6 linked regions of the Homo sapiens genome follow. The protein of the gene in region 6 purifies or fractionates together with the protein of the main gene of each other region. This does not show direct contact. Each region holds a gene or a part of one and is shown on either strand. Other genes may lie near its edges. The genes, in order: BPTF, ARMC9, HAUS5, PPP2R2B, IFFO1 and KRT78.

Region 1 (3,500 bases), on a different chromosome or scaffold from region 6:
GGTTTCCTCATGTTGCCCAGGCTGGTCTAGAATTCCTGGGCTCAAGCATCCTCTTGCCTCAGCCTCTCAATGTGTTGGGATTACAGGCATGAGCCACCGTGCCCAGCTAACAGGGTACACTTACACAACTTTCTGTTTTTAGTGGCGTTTCTAATTGCCTTTCATTTTTATCCCTGACGTTCTTTGGCTTAATCATAGCCTTATGTTTTTCTGTCTTAAACAAATTATCTAATGTATGAGTCATTTTCTTGCTCTACTGAGCCTCTGGGGAGTGCTCCATTCTCCTGCTAGGATTTGGTCTGCTGACATTTTACAGCCTGCTGTATAAATGTCATCTTGGGTCAGAGTAATTCTCATTGCTTTCCTGAACCACTTGTTTTCTGAACTCAAATAAACAAAAATTTCTGGCCGGGCACGGTGGCTCACATCTGTAATCCCAGCACTTTGGGAGGCTGAGGCAGGCGGATCACGAGGTCTGCAGTTTGAGACCGGCTTGGTCAACATGGTGAAACCCCGTCTCTACTAAAAATACAAAAATCAGCTGGGCATGGTGGTGGCTGCCTGTAATCCCAGCTACTTGGGAGGCTGAGGCAGCAGAATTGCTTGAACCCAGGAGGCAGATGTTGCAGCGAGCCGAGATTGTGCCACTGAACTCCAGCCTGGGCAACAGAGTGAGACTCTGTCTCAAAAAAAATATATATATATATATATATTTCTGGCCCAGCACAGTGGTTCACAGCCCCAGCACTTTGGGAGGCCAAGGCTGGTGGGAGGATCGCTTGAGCTCAGGAGTTCAAGATTAGCTTGGGTCATAGCAAGACCCTGTCCCTAAATAAAAAGATACATCATGGCCGGGTGCGGTGGCTCACGCCCGTAATCCCAGCACTTTGGGAGGCCGAGGTGGGCAGAACACCTGAGGTCGGGAGTTTGAGACCAGCCTCACCAACATGGAGAAACCAGGTCTCTACTAAAAATACAAAATTAGCCGGGCGTGGTGGCACATGCCTGTAATCCCAGCTACTAGGGAGGCTGAGGCAAGAGAACCACTTGAATCCGGGAGGTGGGGCTTGTGGTGAGCCGAGATCGCGCCATTGCACTCCAGCCTGGGCAACAAGAGTGAAACTCCGTCTCAAAAAAAAAAAAGATACTTTTTTTTTTTGAGATGGAATCTCCCTCTGTCGCCCAAGCTGGAGTGCAGTGGCGCCTTCTCGGCTCACAGCAAGCTCCGCCTCCCAGATTCAAGTGATTCTCTTGCCTCAGCCTCCCTAGTAGCTGGGATTACAGGCATGTGCCACCACGCCCAGCTAATTTTTTTGTATTTTTAGTAGAGACGGGGTTTCACCGTGTTAGCCAGGATGGTCTCCATCTCCTGACCTCGTGATCCGCCCGCCTCGGCCTCCCAAAGTGCTGGGATTACAGGAAGATACATTATTAAAAGGAAAAAATTTGTTTCCTTATTTTTGACAGCACACTTTTTTTTTTTCTTCTGAGATGGAGTCTCACTCTGACACCAAGGCTGGAATGCAGTGGCGCAATCTCAGCTCACTGCAGCCTGTGCCTCCCGGGTTCAAGCGATTCTCATGCCTCAGCCTCCTGTGTAGCTGAGACTACAGGCGTGCACCATTATGCCTGCCTAATTTTTGTATTTTAAGGAGAGATGGGGTTTTGCCATGTTGGTCTGGATGGTCTTGAACTGCTGACCTCAAGTGATCCACCCACCTTGGCCTCCCAAAGTGCTGGGATTACAGGCGTGAGCCACCATGCCTGGCCAATAGCACACACTTTTTAAAAATACCTGCCAAGAAAGGATGCCCTGAGTCCTCACATGACTGAAAATATATTTATTCTGCCTCTAAACTTGACTGGCTGCACAGACTTCTAGGCTGACAATCATTTTTTCTTAAACTTTTAGATTTATTCTTCCATAATCTTCTAGCACTAAATGTCACAGCAGAAAAATCTGACACCAATCTAATTCTTGTTTTATAGATTGTCGGTTTTATCTAAGAGTTTCTTTTATTCTTAGCATTTGGAAATTTTATAGCGATGTATGTAGGGGTGAGTCTTTTTCCATTTGTCTACCTGGTTTATGATGTTTATCAACTGTCCCCCTTGCTCCACCCACCCCTCATAGAGTGCAGGGGCTTTAATTTATTCACTGCTAAATTCCCAGTATCAGGCACACATCAGGTTCTCAAAAGTTATTTGCTGAGTGAAGGAATTTATTCTGCTAGAATTTAAAGTCCTGTGACAATCATCAGCTCAGGAAATTCTTCTTTTATTCTTATTTTTTTTTTTTTTTTTTTTTTTTTTTTTTGAGACAGGGTCTCACTCTGTCACTCAGGTTGGAGAGCAGTGGTGTAATCACAGCTCACGGCAGCCTTGAACTCCTGGGCACAAGTGATCGTCCTGTCACAGCCTCCTGAGTAGCTAGGACTACAGGTGCATGCCACTATGCCTGGTTAATTTTTTAAATTTTTGTAGAGACATGGTCTCATTATGTTGACAAGGCTGGGATGTTCCCCCCACCTCCTGTGAGAGTCTCATTGTCACCCAGGCTGGAATGCAGTGGTGTGATCTTGGCTCACTGCAACCTCCGCCTCCCAAGTTCAAGTGATTCTTGTGCCTCGGCCTCCCAAGTAGCTGAGATTACATGCGTGCGTCACCACACCTGGCTAATTTTTGTATTTTTGGTAGAGACGGGGTTTCCCCATGTTGGCCAGTCTGGGCTCGAACTCCTGACCTCAGGTGATCTGCCTGCCTTGGCCTCCCAAAGTGTTGGGATTACAGGCGTGAGCCACTATGCCCGGCCACTTCTTGAATTTTCAAAAAAAGACTTTAAGTAGATCAACAACAAACCCAGCAATTTGTCCACTTCTCCTTGGCAGTAGATCATAACCCTGGAGTCTTGATTTATTTATTTTTTTTTTAAAGATATTTAAGGTTAAATTTACCATAAACTGCACTGGTTGAATCGTTAGACAGAATAGTATAAAGAGTGTGAAGAGTTGAATTAATTCAGAATACCGAACCCATCTGCTCACCTGCTAGCTTTGAAGCCTTTCAATTTCTGTACAAAGAATGATTCGAGAACTTCTGCACACTGGTAAAATGGGGAGTCACTTGGATTGTAGTAACGACAGTTATCAAAAATTTTGGTCATATCTGCCACAAATTCCGTCAGCTTTTCATAATATCGTCTTTGTACTCTTTCTTCCATGGTGGCAAGGTCTTAAAAACACAAAATGTAAAACATTTTCAGAGCTTTAAGGTTTTTCCAATGTGAATATTCTCCGAAGTTCTAACAAGTATATATGTTTACTGTGCAAGCAGTCCTGGAGCCAGGCTGGTTCACCCTGGAGGTTATTTTGCAATTCATAAAGAACAAAAGAGTACTTTTCCAATTTTGTTTCTGATTGAGGTTCTAAAATATAAATCCGGGTTGCTGTTAAGGTTCTTTTACTTTCAGGTAACTGCACAGAACCGTTCTTCATTCAAAT
Region 2 (3,500 bases), on a different chromosome or scaffold from region 6:
CTGGGTGAGAGAGCGAGACTCCATCTCAAAAAAAAAAAAAAAAAAAAACAGGAGACCCCCCTAACTAAGACAGCCAGGAGCTAGGAGATGGGGCAGCCATGGGTGTGCACCGGGGTCTTCCTGGGACAGTAGTATCTCTTGCCTGCTGGTCCATTTCAGACAGGGCTGGGCATTTTAACTCCCAGGGCTATGAAGTCCCAAGGCATGTGATTTTGATATTGAAGATAGTCCTGGTTGGTGGGGAAATGAGAATAGCTTTCCTTAGGCCAACGTTCTGCAAAATGCTAAGCCATATTATTGGCCTTTTCCCTTGGGAACTATTTCCTGTTGGCATTTGGGGCTGTCTTTTGCCTAGAATGTACTTTCTGGGCCTGCACTCAACCGATCAAGCAGTTTGAGGGTCCAACAGGTTCCTCCTCATGAGTTTTCCCTGCGGTGCTGACTGAACGCAAAGCGCAAAGGCTCTTCCTCAAGAAACTCAGCGTGAAGGTGGGGGTTTCCACGGGGTCTCTGGGTGGGGCGTTAGTTCCCAGCACAGGCCAGACTCAGCAGCGAGCTGTGTGCAAGGAGACCTGTGGGGAGCGCTGCCTGGGGCCAGGATGGGCCTGGGGCAAGGTGAGTGAGAGAAGGGAAGTGGAGGGGGCCCCATGCCTGTAATCCCAGCACTTTGGGAGGCCGAGGCGGGAGGATCGCTTGAGCCCAAGGGTTCAAGACCAGCCTGGGCAGCACAGAGAGACACCTCTCTCTACAATCAATCAATCAATCAATCAATCAATCAATTGAAGTGGAGGGGAGGGATGGAGAAGCAGGACTGTCTGGAGGAAGTCAGAGCAAGCTCCTGAGCAGGGAAGGAATGAAGCAGAAGGCAACATGGCTCAGGGGTGCCCATGCCCAGCCCAGCACTGCCCACTCCCTGCTGTCCCTGCTGCTCATCCCCCTCCCCCTCATTCATACCCTGGCTTAATGGACTTAACCGCAGTCCCCCTATCTGCAAAGCCCAGATGGAGCACAGAAGCAGAGGGCTGTTTGCCATCCATCCCTTAGGCAGAGGCAGGTGACAGGACAGGGAGAGGGGCAGGGAGGCCAACTGGGGAGACGCAACAGGCCGTGGGCAGGCCTGTCTGAAAGAAGGTCAGAATGGAATCTACTCCAAGCGTGGCAAAGGCTTACTCATGACCCAGAGGAAACTGCACCTGGGGCTTGGTTTTTCCAAAGGAAGAACTTTTTGTCAAGTAAAAGGATTTTAAAGGAGACTAAGAGGGCCAGGCATGATGGCTCACGCCTGTAATCCCAGTGCTTTGGGAGGCTCAGGCAGGAGGATTACTTGAGACTAGGAGTTCAAGACCAGCCTAGGCAACAGCAAACTTCGTCTTTACAAAAAATAGAAAACCACTTTGCCTGGTATGGTGGTGCATCTGTAGTGCCAGCTACTCAGGAAGCTGATGCGGGAGGATCGCTTAGGAATGTGAGGCTGCAGTGAGCTATGACTGGCCACTGCACTCCAGCCTGGGGGACAGAGTGAGACCTTGTCTCAAAATAAAATAAAATAAAGTAAAATAAAATAAAATAAAAGGAGGACTAGGGGTGTTGGCCTGAGGCTCAGAGCGGGCCTGGCAGGGCCAGGGAGGGCAGTGACTATTCCTGGTCTCTGGCAGGTGGAGAAGGGCAGGGCTGCGTGGGTCCGTGTCCTGGGTCCCAGCCAGGCTGAGCCAATAGGAGCAGGCTTAAGGAAGGGACACTCAGAACACGGTCTCAGCATTTGGGGCAGGTTAATGGGGGCACTGACAGCGGGATTTGGGAAAAGCACTGCTCTGCCTCCAGCCGGTCCATCTGGGGGCTGGTGGGCAGCTGCTGCCTCCCTAGGAAGAAGCACTGGCAACCGCCCGTGACCACCAAGGCTGAGTGTCCTGGTGGGTGCCCACCCTGTTCATGCAAGAACCCGGAATGTGCCTGGGCCCAGACTTTGTCAGGGCTAAAGTAAACTGTTCTTGAAAACAACAATAACATCAACATTGCAGCAGCTGCTCCTTGGCCATTTCCATCCATGCCAACCTCAAGTGCCTCCGCCCTGCAGGTAACAGCATGACAGCTTCCCAAAGGCACGTCCAATCAGTGCAAAAATAAAGGGCCTCTCAGTGGTCATTTTGGTAAAGCAAGGATGTTACCGCTACGTTACCCTGAATGTACTGTGGAGCCTTTCAGGAAGTCCAGGCCTAAGAACTTGAAATGTTTTAACTCAATGGCATTCAGTCAAATTGGCAAAACTTTTCAGACGCCCCCTAAGACCTCCACCCTGGCAGCAGAAATCTCTGGATAAATTACTAAGCTGCTCACCTTTGGAGAGCATATTAATATTTACAGCTTTAGTAAAGCACATGTAAAATAACTGATGATCAACGCTGGCAAAACCTCTGAAACTGCTCATCACCAAGAGACCCAGGAGTTGCAAATAACCCAGCCAGTGCTGACTCGTCACTAGCTACCGCTCTGCACCTGGGCCTGGAAGCGTCTGAATCCAATTGTGAGCAGATGCAAGTTCTCAGATGTTTCTCAGACAGGAATCCAACCCGTTCCTCTGTTGTTTTTCCTACTCAAATGGAAATTAGAGTCTTATCTGAACTGCTCATAATCCTTTTAATTTCCTTTCAAAAATTAAAAAAAATACTTTGTACATTTCTGATTCAAAGTATATATATTTTTTCTGGCATCTAAAAAATACTTTTATCTCCCATCAGCCTCTGGTTAACTCAGCTGGAAGTTTCAAAGGCGTTTGGATCCCAGAGTTGTTTGTGCTCTTAGTTGCACATTTCTGCCTCCGTCCAGCCTTCCAGCAGGCGGCTGGCCTTCTCTGCACCAGAATCTGAGCTATCAGAATCAGGGTCACAGATCAACATCAGCCCGGCATTCCTCCTCCGAAATTTCACATTAAAGCCGGCTTTCACCAGTCAGAAATCTTGCCCCAGGAGCTCCCAGACGGGACAACAGGCAGTGCTCTGAGAAGGGGACGCAGAGGACCAGCCCAGCATGGGTCTGGCTGTGGGCTGGGAATCCCGTGAGCCTCTGTGACACGGGGCTGTTGCTGAGACCAGAGGGCTTCCCAGGAGCAGACGTGCGTCTGCCACTCCTGCTGCTGTTTTGCGTAGGTTCTAGACATCACAATCCCAGAACTGACCCAGTGTGCTGCCCACATTCTTACATGAAGAGGAGACGCAGGACTCCGGGGTGCTGGGCTTGCCCTCCCTGTAGACAGCCTCGTGAGCGGCTGGCAGGGCCTGCGGGTGGCCGTTTCTGGCGTGCTGGGCTGTCTGGGGAGGTGTGTGTTGGTCTTCCACCCTGGAGAAAAACATGAAAAACGGCAGTGAGTACAGCCAGCCAGGAGATTCGGACTGCCGACTGCCGACTGCAGCATCACAAATACAGGAGGGGGCGGTGCCTCAAAGTCTTGTTAAACCATCATTAGCATATCAGACCTTCTAAAGGGTCTTGGCAGGAGCCAGGAG
Region 3 (3,500 bases), on a different chromosome or scaffold from region 6:
CCAGTCCCCCACGATCCCCTGCAGCTCAGGGATTCGCTCCAGTGCCTGTTTCAGTAGCTTCTCCAGCCTCTTCAGAGCCTGCCCCAGGTTCTCTTTCTGCTGTTTTTCCTGGGATGCCTGGATCTGCAGCAGCTCTGAGGGTGAGAAAGCCAGGAGGCAGCTTTGAGTCCTCTGGCTCGCTGGTACCTTACAGCAATGAGTCCCCAATTCTCCAGTCCCCTAGTCTTGACCTCAGCAGCTCCCGCAAACCAATGATGAGTCTGTCTCCTTCTCTTCCCAGCCTGGAAGTCCCCTTCTGAGGGACTGCCCTTGAGATGAGGACCTGTCCCTCCTCCCAGATCCTCATCTCAAGGGCAGTCCACCACCCCCAGCCCCATCCAGGCCTCCTTCTGGATGCCTTCCTCCCTCCCCGTGAGAGCCCATCAATCTCCATGGCCTGTCCGCTCAGTCTCCTGAGCGTTTCTTCCTCTCCTCTGCTCCAGGCCTCAGTCTCCTGCTCTGGTTCACCCTCCGCACTACACCACAGTGATCTTCCTGAAGCCTAAATTTGATGCTCTCCCTCCTGTCTAGAACCCTCCAAGGTTCTCCAGTGCCCCCAAGGCAGAGTCCAAGCCCTTCAGCAGGTATTTGAGTTTCATGATGTGGCAAAGCCTGGCCGATTCCCAGGGCCCACAGTAGAGAGTATCTTTCCTCCTGGAGGCCCCTCCAACACTCTCGCTCCAAGGCTTCCTCCTCCGCCTGCTCTAGCTTCACCCTAGCGGTGCTTTCCTCTGGGACTGGGACTGGGCCTACCTCTCCATGTGCACAGAACAGGCCCAGCTCAGCAAGTGCAGACGAGCAGCGTGATCAGACAAGCTGGGCCTGAATCCTGACCCCATCCCATCCCTGCCCTGTGACCTTGATCACGACACTGGCTCTTTGTTCAGCTCCGTCTGCTGTCAGGTGGAATTACTGGGGCAGGGGACCGATGGGAGAACTCTGGGGATGGGACCCTTAGGGCTTGCTGAGAGGCTGAAGCTGGTGAGGGTGGGGGGATTAGGGTGATGGAGAAATTCAGGATGACTCCTGGGTTTCTGGGTGCAGCACTTGGATGAGGAGGGTGAGATAATTTAACAAGGAAGGAAACCAAGAAGAGGAACAAAATTGTTTTTTGGAGTAGAGAGAACCAGGAGTTCCATGATAGATGTGTACAGTTCAAGATGCCCATGATTATAAGAAATATAAAATTAGCTGGGTGTGGGGTGCATGCCTGTGGTCCCAGCTACTCGGGAGGCTGAGGCAGGAGGATGGCTTGAGCCCAGGAGGTTGAGGCTGCAGTAAGCCAGGATGGCACCACTGCACTCCAGCCTGAGTGACAGAATGAGACCTTGTCTCAAAAAAACAAAAGCAAAAACAAAAAACACATGAGGTGGGCAGAGGGCGTGGTAGGCAGAGGCTGAGGTGGGCAGAGGCCGTGTGGGGTCTGGGGCTGCTCTCATTGCTCCTGCACACTGTTCCCTCCCCTTGTGAAGAAGTGGAGGGCAGGGAGCCCCAAACTCAGAGGCTTGAACAGTCTCTTCCTCCAGTGCTGCTGGCACTGCCGGTTCATTTCTCATCAATTCTCCTCTTCCATGTATTTATCCTTTCATTCTTTACTCTTTACTTCCATCTGGGGAAACCCCTGGGGTGGGGACCTTTCTCCTCACTCCCCATCAAGCCATCTGGGCTGGCACCTGGTAGACACCCAGTATTTGGTGAGTGAATCCAGGAATGAATGACTTCTCTAACCTTCAGTTTCCTCATCTGTAAACTGGGGTTCTTAAAAGTCCCTTTCCTCATCGTCATGACTCCAAGAGACTGTGTGTGTACACAGACAATGATGCTAATCACATTGGAGACACAGGGTGCTTACTGCATAGCAGGCAGTGTTCAGTGCCCTGTGTGGGTCCCCTGCCTCAATCTGCCCAGCACCTCGGTAAGATATTGCTTCATGCTTACTCCACTGAGGAGGAAGCTAAGGCACGGGGAGGCCACACAGCTAGGAAGAGACGGCAGAGAGGATTCCCAGGCTTTGAACTGCTGAGGTATACTATGTGACGGTGATGAATGAACACGTGGAAAGTCGACGGCAGTGTAGCTTAGTGGTTGGGAGCACAGACCCATTTCAGACCACCTGGATTCAAATTCCAGCTTTGCCATTTGGGCAACCTACTAACCTCTGCGTCTCAGTTCCCTTCTCTGTAGAATGGAGAGAACAGCAGCACTTACCTTATGGGACTGCCGTGCAGATGAAACAAGGGAGAATGTTTAAAGCCCTTAGCACACAATGGGCACTGCGTAAACAACGGGGTTGCTGGTAAGGACTCGTGGAGGCTGCTGGTAGTGGGAATGGGCGGGGAGGCTGGATGGGGTGGCAGGGCAGACCTACCCTGGGTGGGAAGGCCTGGCGGCAGGCTGGTCTTCATGTGGAGTAGATCCCAGCACCAGAGGCTCCGCTGGTCCTGCAGGAGCAGAAGGTCCTGGCGAAGAGAGGCAGCCGCCGGCAGGAGCAGCTCCGAGGCCTGGAGGAGGAGGGAAGGACGGTCACCTGGGGCGGGGCTGGGGAGACAAGTCACAGGAGACGGGCACTCACCTTCCCTGGAGGCAGCCCCAGCTTGTGGCTCAGCGCTATGAAGCTGGAGCCCCTTGGGGACGCGGGGTGCAGCTGGTGGATGGATGGGAGGACCGTGGGCAGGGGCTTCAACCTACGGGCGGGGAGAAGTCTGGGTTGGGTGGGGACTGAGAGGAGGCCTTGGGTTCTGGAGGCTCTGGGGGCCCAGGAACTTCAAGGTGGGTCTGGGGACTAGGATGCCAAGACCAGGGCTGCTGACCCAAGGGTGAGGTCTGGCAGCCTGGGAACACTGGGGGTCTGGGGTTATCTTTTTTGAGGAGGTTCAGGGAGTGACAGTCACCCATGGCAGGGGATGCAGGGCAGGGGTGGGGCAGCCCCAGTCTCACTCTCCCGGCCTGTGCCGCAGCAGCGTGCCCAACAGAATGTGGGGCAAATGCCGGACTTCCTCCTCCAGACAGCGCAGCAGCTCCCGGCTCTGTGGTGCCACTGCCTCAAATGTAGGGACCACCTTTCGCTGGACCAGAGCTAGCACCTGTGGGGAAGGGGAGGGGTGGGTGGGGCATCACAACATCACAAGTCCACCCAGCCCCATCCTGGCAGATCCAGCCCTACCCAGACCTCACCCCAACTCCCATCTCACCTCCCCCGGGCTCCGGCACAGGCGGGTCTTGCTGGCCGAGTTTCCCTTGATGAGCAGGCGGACCTGTTCCTGGGTCTCCTCCTGAGGAACCAGGATACCCTGAGACCCACTCCTCCCAGCTCCCAGCCTCAGTGTGCCTCTCTGCTTAGGTCCTGCTTCTGCCTGGGAGTCTCACCTGGGCTCTTGCCTAGGAGGCCCAGTTCTTAATTTTTAAGTGACAGCATTCTTTTTTTTTAAGTGATAGCATCTTGCTCTGTCACCCAGGCTGGA
Region 4 (3,500 bases), on a different chromosome or scaffold from region 6:
ATACACACACACACACACACACACACACACACACACACACACACATAATGTATGATGGGGATAGTGGATAAGAACTTTAACTAAAACTGCCTGGCTTTGTCACTTGTGAACTGTGTAAATTTGGTTGTCATTCATCTGTTTCTGTATCTATAAAATGAGAACAACAATAGTATCTGCATCTGGAGTTTTAGGGGTAAATAAGTCAATACATGTGAAATTTGTAGAACAAAGCCTGGCTTATAATAAGTGCTCAATAAATGTTAGCAACTATTGTATGTTAGAGCTGTATTTTAACAGCTCTGGCTTTAGAGTCAGATACCTTGAGTTGGAGTCCTGGTTCCATCTCTCTCGGGCTTTGTGCCCTTGGCTAGGTTGACAACTTGAGTCTATTTTCTCATTTGCAAAATGGAAATACTAATGCCACCATGGGGTCTGGGAGAGGAGATAATGAGATGAGGCATGGAAAGCAATAGTATATTACCCATCACTGTTGTTGCTATTATTAGTTTATGGTGCTTTAAACCTATCAAAATAGTTGTAAGTAAATGGATTTCTTGTTCTCCCAATAACAATTCTCTGAGCTAGGATAGATGTCTTTCTGGCCATTTTACAGGTGATGACACTGACATAGGGACTGAGTGGGTAGCTTAAGTTCCATGGTTACCAGGAGCAGGACCCACGTTTCCTGTCTCCCAGTCTCATCCTTTTTCCACTGACCAGGTTGGTTGCTCCCTTGGAAAGCAGTCCCTGAGAGTTGACTTAGAAGTTCAGGGGGAAGAGGTGGATGAAGGCATGTTGGATGCACAGTGAATCAGGTTGCAGTGTGAATGTTTCTCAGTGGTGTGTCTAGACTTCCCCCATCCAAAGACTAACCAGGCCTGACTCCATTTCACTTCCAAGATCAGATGAGATCGGGTGCATTCAGGGTGGTATGTCCAAAGACTGTGTCAGGGGATTTGTTTTGGAAGTGGGGTGGCATTATTAAAAACACACCGGCTTCATCCACACATTCATCACGGAAGAGGGAAAATTAGTAAGGGTTCCACCATTCAGGCTGTGGACTATAGTGTCATCCCTAAATCCTCATTATGAGGCCTACCAGGGCTTTCTTGAGCCCTGCAGGCAGCTAGCAAAGGGACTGAAAAAGAAATGAGGCCTGGGGTTGTCTGGGGAGGGAAGCTTTAGGCAGTTGCTCTGTAGGCTTGAAGGGAGGGAAATTATGGCTTTTCAAGTCCTTAGAAATTGGGCATTTGAGTGTGTACCTTTTATTATAATGGACCCTAGAATATTCAAAGGAAGTTTAGTGGAGATAGCTGACTTATTTCATTGGGCCACTGAGCTAGCAGAATTTTAGCTTCATCTTTATTCCACCTTGCAATTGTTCCATCTTATATATGCTGGTTGCCTAATAGAAGTTGATTTGGTTGAATTAATTACAAGATCAATGAGAGGTTTAAAGGTGCTTTTTTTTCAATGGAAGAGTAAAGGCAGGAGCCAAACTTGAAGGAGTTAAGAAGCAACTTGATTCCCACTGCCCATCTGCCTTTATATATCCCACTTCTTGATGCTGGCTAGTATCTTCCTTTTTTGTTTTTTCTAACTAATCTTCCTCCTCCTGACAGAAGAGTACGAATGTCTACCAAAGTTCAGCTTTTTGCATTACTTGTTTTTAACGTCAGGAACTGAATGTTGCGCAAGGATGGTTTTTGTAAAAGCCAGGGATGGCGTGGCTTCCATTTTCCTTCATTCAACTGACACCCTCCAGTTGTAATCTGATGGCTCTTACCAAGCAGCAGGCCTTGTGGGGTAAAGTAGTATAGGGCCCTTAGAATCGAACCAACTGTTGCAAGGTAGCAAATCAGCCTTCAAGTAGTTTTTAGTGTCAGCAGGAAAACAGACTGACTTCTATGTGCCACTAACTAAGAAATATTGCCAGTACTGGGGCTGAAAGATCACACATGTAAAATACCTAGTTCAGTACCTGGTAAAGAACAGTTAATTTGTGAAACATCGTGGTGGTTATTGCTCCCTGAGGCCTAATCTCTAGGGCTTTCCCCTCCTGTTCCCGTCCAGGAGTCTTGGGTGTTTGCTCTAATGCATCCTTTGCAGGGGATGGAGGAGAGGATGGCTGCCCTCTGCTCTTTCTTCTCTGGCAAACTCATCCTACTCTGGATCCCAGTTTGTACATCTATATGCTAAGGGTGTTGGACTAGTGTAGGGGCTTTTATTTGGAGTTCGCAGATAAACTGCAAAGGGGCCTATGAACTCCTTAAACCATGACAAAAATTATTCCTGTGTGTGTTATGGGCAGCCCTGCTGACTCTAATATGTGAAGAACCACCATCTTTGATGCCCCTAAGGGCATAAATCTTCTGTCATATCAGTTACTCAGGGTCCCAAAGTTTGATACACATGCTCCTGGTGGTTCACAAAATGATTTCAGGTGGTATGTGGGTGCATGTTTGTTACATTGATAATTATGTGATTAATGTTAGGGAAAAACCTAGCATATCAGAGTTGAAATTTCATGCATATTATTTCTTTGGAGGAGGCTAAGTCTTGCTTTTAAGAAAAGGTGACTTAAAAAAATGTTACATGAGTAATAGTACAAATGTGAGTTGATTCTTAAGTTTGAGATACAATGATTGGTCCCAACCCCCGACGTGGTACAGACAGAGGAGCTGAGTCCGGAGAAGTGGAGAAAAGGCCATAAAGGAAGTCGGTGGTAAATGTAGGCCAATAACCCAGTGGCCTTCTGCAAAATCATCACTCTCTATGACTGGCAGAAGTTTCTGACTCTCTCATGTCTCCTCCAAGAACACTGTCCCAGTCAGGACAGAAATCTTGCCCAGAGAGTTTACACCTTAGCCACTTTACTTGAGATGCCTAAGGCGAGGCTTTCCTTGCAGGAAAAATGAGAAATACTGAGAAAGTCTCGTCTTTGTTCCCATGCTCCCTCAATTCTGAGACGTACTTTTTTACATTTTAATGTTCCTGAAATTGGGCTGCATCTAACAAGACTGTTTTTACCTAAGGTGACAGTTATTTCCTTGCCAAAAAGCTATTAGTAAATGGATAGTAGCTTAGAATTGAGATAAAATGATTCTTTCACTATTTTTTCCTCCTCCAAAGCAAATTACACTTGAAAGTCAGGACTTCTAATACATCTGTAAACTGAAAGAAAATTTCCCTTTCATTGAAAAACTCTCATCTCAAACCATTTACCCTGCACTAAATGGGAGTTAGGAGAAATGAGTCATCAAGACAGATGTAGAGATATTAACCCAGAACCAGTTTTCTGGACTCCACCCATCTACTTTCCTAAGTTTATAAATCCTTTGCATGCATTTAGTGCCTTTCCTAGGGGTGTGCCACATAGAACCTTCTGGAAATGGCTTTCTAGAAGTTATAAATCTGGATCCTCAACTGGGGAAAAGGATGAACCATCTTCCACAGCTTCAAGTGGACTTCATTCACTTCATGTCACAGCTGCTTGATTT
Region 5 (3,500 bases), about 46 Mb from region 6:
CATAATGTGGATTGGACAGAGAGGGTGGGAACTTAGAGAAAGAAGGAAACAGGTTACAGGGCCAGACAGCAGAGATGGTCAGGACAGTGACATTTGGGGTGAGATGGCGGCTGGCTGGGTGAGAAGCCCTAGTGGGGACAGCTTCCCTGGCAGGCTTGGATCCACAGCTGGGGCCCCACAGTAGTGGGAGGAGCAGGACACGGTGACTGTTCAACCCAGGGGGAAAATACAGTGCCACCAGCCCTTGTTCAGATCAGCTGCCTACACCCCAATTTCTCCACCTTGGAAGAACCGGAGTGCAGGGAGCTGGGTTCTGGAACCATCACTCAGGGAGACTGGGAAGAAGGAAATGAACCAAATATATTCTACTGAAATACAAGGCTAGTACTGCCACCAGTAGTCTCTGCATATGTCTATGTCCCCACTTAATTCACAAATTTACAGCAGGAACAAGGTCAGGAGGTGAACGTGCATGTCAGGAGATGTCCTTGACAAGCCACCTTGAAAACTGCAGGCTCGCTGTGTGAACAGACTTGGGGGTGGGACGGGAGGAGACAGAGAGAGGTGAGGAGCGGTGGGGAAGAACTGCCTCCCGCCCACCACTCTGGGCCTTGGCTTTACCTTGCTCCATCTTAGTGACCCTGAGAGATCAAAGGTCACAAAGATAAAGGCACCTTGGGTACTCCTGAGGTCAGCAAGTCCTCCTAACGGTTCCCCTAATGCAGAAGTCCCCAAACCCCAGGCCACGGACCAGTACCTGTCTGTGGCCTGTTAGGAACCAGGCCAAATAGCAGGAGGTGAGCAGTGGGCAAGTGAGTGAAGCTTCATCTGTATTTACAGCTGCTCCCCATCACTGGCATTACAGCCTGAGCTCCACCTCCTGTCAGATCCGCGGCGGCATTAGATTCTCACAGGATCCTGAACCCTACCTTACGTGAACTGTGCATGCGAGGGATCTAGGCTGTGTGCTCCTTATGAGAATCTAATGCCTGATGATCTGTCACTATCTCCCATCACCCCCAGATGGGACCGTCTAGTTGCGGAAAACAAGTTCATGGCTCCCACTGATTCTACATTATGGTGAGATGTATAATTATTTCATTATATATTATAATGTAATAATAATAGAAATAAAGTGCACAGGCCGGGTGCGGTGGCTCATGCCTGTAATCCCAGCACTTTGGGAGGCCGAGGTGGTGGATCACCTGAGGTCGGGAGTTCGAGACCAGCTTGACCAACATGGAGAAACCCCATCTCTACTAAAAATACAAAATTAGCCAGGCGTGGTGGCACATGCCCGTAATCCCAGCTACTTGGGAGGCTGAGGCAGGAGAATTGCTTGAGCCCGGGAGGCGGAGGCTGCAGTGAGCCAAGATTGCGCCATTGCACTCCAGCCTGGGCAACAAGAGCAAAACTCTGTCTCTAAAAATAATAATAATAATTTTTAAAAATAGTAATAAAGTACACAATAAATGTAATGTTTGAATCATCTCAAAATCATTTCCCCCGGGTCAGTGGAAAAACTGTCTTCCACAAACCAGTCCCTGGTACCAAAAAGGTTGGGGACTGCTGCCTAAAGTCATTGCACTGGGAGAGAGGAGGAGTCAGATGATTTGAAAATACTTTTTTTTTTTTTTTTCCTGAGATGGAATCTTGCTCTGTCACCCAGGCTGTGGTGCAGTGGCACAATCTCAGCTCACTGCAGCCTCCACCTCCCAGATTCCAGCAATTCTCCTGCCTCAGCCTCCCAAGTAGCTGGGATTACAGGTGCCCACCACAATGCCTGGCTACTTTTTGTATTTTTAGTAGAGACGGGGTTTCACATGTTGGTGGCCAGGCTGGTCTCACACTCCTGACCTCAAGTGATCTGCCCGCGTTGGCCTCCCAAAGTGCTGGGATTACAGGCGAGAGCCACCACGCCCAGCCAAAAATAGCTTAAAAGGCATGATTCCATTTAAGATATTATTTTCGTTCTTTCAGATCATGTTTTACACTGGGCACTTGAGGTCCAGGGAAGACTAGGGAGAGATGGCAGCCCGAGATCTCTTCTCACGAAGATGGCCGCACAAAGGCCCCTAGTTGGTTGAAGGCACAGTGAAAACACAAACCTTAAATCCACCATCCAAAAGAGGGAGACAAGAATCAGGTCAGGCAGGAGGAGGAAACAGTGAGCCGCGGTAGACGGGAGGGTGGGGAGTACTGGTTTCCCTTGCCATGTCTTTAGCTAGCAGCACAAATCCAGGAAACCTCATCTACCTGGCCAAGAAAACCAGGTTTGATGCAGGAGCAGGACAGTTTGATGTGTGTTGGGAGAATGAGTATATAGGAAAATAATTTCTCGACTTCCTTCTCAAACACCTCCAATGTGACAGCAATAAGAATAAAGTCAAGGCCGGGCGCGGTGGCTCACGCCTGTAATCCCAGCACTTTGGAAGGCCGAGGCGGGTGGATCACGAGGTCAGGAGATCGAGACCATCCTGGCTAACATGGTGAAACCCCGTCTCTACTAAAAAATACAAAAAATTAGCCGGGCGTAGTGGCAGGCGCCTGTAGTCCCAGCTACTCTGGAGGCTGAGGCAGGAGAATGGCGTGAACCTGGGAGGTGGAGCTTGCAGTGAGCTGAGATCGCGCCACTGCACTCCAGCCTGGGCGACACAGCGAGACTACGTCTCAAAAAAATAAATAAATAAATAAATAAATGAAAAGAATAAAGTCACTCTCTCCTTATCCACTGGTTTCACTTTCCACGGCTTCAGGTACCCAAGGTGAACCTTGATCTGAAAATATTAAATGAAATATTCCAGAAATAAACAATTCCTAAGTTTTAAATTGCACGCTGTTCTGAGTGGCCTGATAAAATCTCACTCTCTCTGCCGGGCGCGGTGGCTCACGCCTATAATCCCAGCACTTTGGGAGGCCGAGGTGGGCGGATCATGAGGTCAGGAGATCGAGATCATCCTGGCTAACACGGTGAAACCCCATCTCTACTAAAAAATACAAAAGAAATTAGCCGGGCGTGATGGCGGGCGCCTGTAGTCCCAGCTACTCAGGAGGCTGAGGCAGGAGAATGGCGTGAACCCAGGAGGTGGAGCTTGCAGTGAGCCGAGTTCAAGCCACTGCACTCCAGCCTGGGTGACACAGCGAGACTCCGTCTCGGAAAAAAAAAAAAAAACCTCACTCTATCCAGACCAGGACATGAACCCTCCCTCTGTCCCAAGGATCCACACTGTCTATACTGCCTGCCCATTAGTTACTTAGGAGCCATCTCAGTGATGAGATTGACTGTCGTGGTATGGCAGTGCCCGTGTTCAAGGAACCCTTATTTTTACTTCATAATGGCCCCAAAGCACAAGAGTAGTGATGCTGGCAATTTGGATATGTGAAAGAGAAGCCAAAATATGCTCCCTTTAAGTGAAAAGGTAAAAGTTTTCAACTTAATAAGAAAAAGAATCCGATGCTGAGGTTGGTAAGCTCTACAGTAAGAATGAATCTTCTATCCG
Region 6 (3,500 bases):
GGTGGGGCTAACTTCTCCTTAGGTAGATGCATTACAAGGGTCAGAAATAGAGGAAGAGATTGGCAAGGGGAGGGAGGCCGTTTCCTGCTCCTCCTGCGGTGTAGAGACCTCACTTCTAGATGTGAAGTGTTATGAATTCTCAAATTGTTAAGTATTCTTGCACTCATATTTCCTAAACCCAAAATATCAATTTGGGTGTCAATGGAGGATGGAGAGCAGAGACCACAGAGTCAGGCCATTTCCTCAAGCACTACAGCTTGATTCAAAAGTCACATGTGGTCCCTTGACTCCCAAGCAGAGCCCTCTGGGGAGGGTTCTTGGAGTATCCAGAACCATCCTCCTGGTTCTTGTTTGCAATGAGAAGCAGGGCTTGAGATGAATGTGATGAATCCTCTTACTCAATTTGCTGCCACTATGTTTCACCAACAAATTTGGACCCCTTGCTTTGGAGTCCTCTGGGGTGGCTATTAAGATCCAGATTCCTGGCCTCCTGGCAGAGCTGAGGAGTCAGAATCTCTAAGGATGGGGCCCAGAAACCTGCTTTTTAAATGAGGTTGCCCAGCTGGTTCTGAAGCATGTGGTCTTGAGAGTCCAGTGGCAGCACGCAGGAGTGTGTATGTGTACTGGGTACCTGGGTCTGGGAATCACAGCTCCTCACACAGCAATGTGCCTTTCCCAGGAGAATCCCTCCTGGAGATATAGCACTGTCCCCTGCTCCTTTTCCTGCACAAACATGATGAACTGGGCTCCCCTGTGCAGGCCCACGTGGGTTAGGATCCCAGTTCTGCCACTCTTCTTTCTGAGCCTCAGTTTCTTCATCTATAGAGTAGAGATTATGTTTCTATCCACAGAGTGGGAATCGATAATAACAGCCTTTAGACAATTCCTTCTTTCCTGAGTCAGATGTGAGGGCAAATCAACTGTAAGGCTGATAAAGACAGGGATCTCATCCTTCCTCTAGCTTTCTATTGTAAGTAAAAGGATTATATTTTCTTTTTTTTTTTTTTTGAGAAGGAGTCTCACTCTGTCACCCAGGCTGGAATGCAGTGGCGCGATCTCGGCTCACTGCAACCTCCGCCTCCCGGGTTCAAGCGATTCTCCTACCTCAGCCTCCTGAGTAGCTGGGACTACAGGTGTGTGCCACCATGCCCGGCTAATTTTTTTTTTTTATTTTTAGTAGAGACAGGGTTTCGCCGTATTAGCCAGGATGGTCTCTATCTCCTGACCTAGTGATCTGCCCACCTCAGCCTCCCAAAGTGCTGGAATTACAGGCGTGAGCCACCGCGCCCGGTAGAGATTATATTTTTCAAGTCCCAAATTGAGGCATATGTTTTGATGTACTCTGACAACAGGACAAAGTATTTGAAATGGGACTGTCTGAAAAAAATGAGAACCATTGTGACCCTCAGGGGGAGCCTTGCAGATAGTGATCCATGGTACAGGAAGAGCTTTAAGCACCCTGGGAGAGGTGCCGAGGGCTGGGGGTGGGAAGAAATAGGGAAAGAGCACTTGGGGAGGTGGCACAGGAGTTGTACTAGTGTCCTAGGCCTGTCATGACAAATCACCACAAATCGGGTGGCTTAAAACAACAGAAATGTAATCTCTCCCAGTCCTGGAGCCTTGAAGTCTGAAGTCAAGGTGTTGGCGGGGCCGTGCTCCCTCTGAAGGTGCAGCGAGAGTCCTCCCTGGGTCTTGCTAGCTTCTGCAGGCTTCAGGAGCTCCTTGGCATTTTTCGTCTTATTGCTGCATCATTCCCATCTCTGCCTCTCTCTTCTTCTTTCTATTTTTTGAGATGGAGTCTTGCTCTGTTGCCAGGCTGGAGTGCAGTGGCATGATCTTGGCTCACTGCAACCTCCACCTCCCGGGTTCAAGCAATTCTCCTGCCTCAGCCTCCCGAGTAGCTGGGACTACAGGTGCGTGCCACTATGGTCAGCTAATTTTTTTATTTTTATTTTTAGTAGAGATGGGGTTTTACCGTGTTAGCCAGGATTGTCTCGAACTCCTCACCTTGTAATTCACCTGCCTCAGCCTCCTAAAGTGCTAGGATTACAGGCGTGAGCCACCATGCCCAGCCCTGCCTCTCTCTTCTGATGAGCTCTTCTCTCTGTGTCTGTCTCTGTGTTCTCTCTTCTATTCATAAGGACACCAGTCATTGGATTTAGGGCTCACCCTAAATATGGTACGATATGATCATGAGATCCTTAATTAATTATATCTGTAAAGACCCTACTTCCAATAAGATCACATTCTGGGGTTCTGGGTGGACATGAAAGTTTTGGGGGATACTCTTCAACCTACTGCAGGAGGTAAGGAAGTGAGGGAAGCAATACCTTCCCTTAGAATGAGAGGAGCCTGTTGCAGGGGTGGTGTTGGTACAGACGGCCATGGATAATTTTGAGCTCATAAGATTATGATCCGCCCCAGCCTTCAAGTGATATCCACAGTGGGTGCTTTGAGAGGCTATGTTGGACTTACAACCACCTTCTCGCTCATTTCTACCCCGCTTCCAGAACGCCAGCCTGCAGGCCGCCATCACTGATGCTGAGCAGCGTGGGGAGCTGGCCCTCAAGGACGCTCAGGCCAAGGTGGACGAGCTGGAGGCTGCTCTGAGGATGGCCAAGCAGAACCTGGCCCGGCTGCTGTGCGAGTACCAGGAGCTGACGAGCACGAAGCTTTCCCTGGATGTGGAGATTGCCACTTACCGCAGGCTGCTGGAGGGCGAGGAGTGCAGGTGAGGGAGGCTTGGAGGGACCTGGGAATATGAGTTTGGGGAGGAGGATGGGATGCCAACACAGTGAGCTGCTTGCTAAAGAGGATTCTGAGAGATTTCCTGACATTGTGAGTTGCTAAGGGCAACCGACGCTGCAGAGAGGGATTTTAAGTTGGAGACTGTGGATTTTATCTGCTGAGAGGGTGGGTGACCTGCTTTGAGGGGCTTAAAAGCTCGTGGGGATGCATTCTTTGTAGTATTCCTTAGCGCATCCCCCTCTTGTCCTTTTCCCCCTAGGATGTCTGGGGAGTGCACCAGCCAGGTCACTATCTGTGAGTATCAGGGGACTTTAGGGATGGGATCCCCATGGGGAGCTGATGACCCTGCTCTGACCCGGTGCGTTTCTTGGCAGCCTCGGTGGGAGGCAGCGCTGTCATGTCTGGAGGAGTTGGTGGAGGCTTGGGGAGCACTTGTGGACTCGGTAGTGGGAAAGGCAGCCCTGGGTCCTGCTGCACCAGCATTGTGACTGGAGGCTCCAACATCATTCTGGGCTCTGGGAAGGACCCTGTTTTGGATTCCTGCTCTGTGTCTGGCTCCAGCGCTGGCTCCAGCTGCCACACCATCCTGAAGAAGACAGTTGAGTCGAGTCTGAAGACATCCATCACCTACTGAGCGACCCAGCAGCCACCTCCTTCCTGAACACATTTGGCCCACTCCCCCCATCAGCCGGCTCTGCAAGGCCAACTCCGTGTCCGCTGCCCACAGCCCAAGCCAGCCCACAGCGGATGCT

The links.
Region 1: the proteins of KRT78 (region 6) and BPTF purify together in Homo sapiens (affinity purification with mass spectrometry; one large-scale study listed by BioGRID and IntAct). This does not show direct contact.
Region 2: the proteins of KRT78 (region 6) and ARMC9 purify together in Homo sapiens (co-immunoprecipitation; one large-scale study listed by IntAct). This does not show direct contact.
Region 3: the proteins of KRT78 (region 6) and HAUS5 purify together in Homo sapiens (affinity purification with mass spectrometry; one large-scale study listed by BioGRID and IntAct). This does not show direct contact.
Region 4: the proteins of KRT78 (region 6) and PPP2R2B purify together in Homo sapiens (pull-down; one large-scale study listed by IntAct). This does not show direct contact.
Region 5: the proteins of KRT78 (region 6) and IFFO1 purify together in Homo sapiens (affinity purification with mass spectrometry; one large-scale study listed by BioGRID and IntAct). This does not show direct contact.

The regions. Positions count from the first base shown.
Region 1 is NC_000017.11:67,975,503-67,979,002, reverse strand, and holds part of BPTF (nucleosome-remodeling factor subunit BPTF), read right to left. Parts: intron 3,232-3,500; coding exon 3,045-3,231; intron 1-3,044. UniProt on the Homo sapiens protein: Regulatory subunit of the ATP-dependent NURF-1 and NURF-5 ISWI chromatin remodeling complexes, which form ordered nucleosome arrays on chromatin and facilitate access to DNA during DNA-templated processes such as DNA replication, transcription, and repair.
Region 2 is NC_000002.12:231,355,631-231,359,130, reverse strand, and holds part of ARMC9 (lisH domain-containing protein ARMC9), read right to left. Parts: intron 3,334-3,500; coding exon 3,197-3,333; intron 1-3,196. UniProt on the Homo sapiens protein: Involved in ciliogenesis. It is required for appropriate acetylation and polyglutamylation of ciliary microtubules, and regulation of cilium length. Acts as a positive regulator of hedgehog (Hh)signaling.
Region 3 is NC_000019.10:35,619,235-35,622,734, reverse strand, and holds part of HAUS5 (HAUS augmin-like complex subunit 5), read right to left. Parts: intron 3,312-3,500; coding exon 3,231-3,311; intron 3,123-3,230; coding exon 2,977-3,122; intron 2,724-2,976; coding exon 2,612-2,723; intron 2,541-2,611; coding exon 2,408-2,540; intron 2,313-2,407; coding exon of another isoform or gene 2,296-2,312; exon of another isoform or gene 2,248-2,295; intron 135-2,247; coding exon 2-134; intron 1-1.
Region 4 is NC_000005.10:146,585,258-146,588,757, forward strand, and holds part of PPP2R2B (serine/threonine-protein phosphatase 2A 55 kDa regulatory subunit B beta isoform), read right to left. Parts: 3' UTR 1-3,500. UniProt on the Homo sapiens protein: The B regulatory subunit might modulate substrate selectivity and catalytic activity, and might also direct the localization of the catalytic enzyme to a particular subcellular compartment.
Region 5 is NC_000012.12:6,542,543-6,546,042, forward strand, and holds part of IFFO1 (non-homologous end joining factor IFFO1), read right to left. Parts: intron 1-3,500. UniProt on the Homo sapiens protein: Nuclear matrix protein involved in the immobilization of broken DNA ends and the suppression of chromosome translocation during DNA double-strand breaks (DSBs).
Region 6 is NC_000012.12:52,838,995-52,842,494, reverse strand, and holds part of KRT78 (keratin, type II cytoskeletal 78), read left to right. Parts: intron 1-2,510; coding exon 2,511-2,731; intron 2,732-3,007; coding exon 3,008-3,042; intron 3,043-3,122; coding exon 3,123-3,382; 3' UTR 3,383-3,500.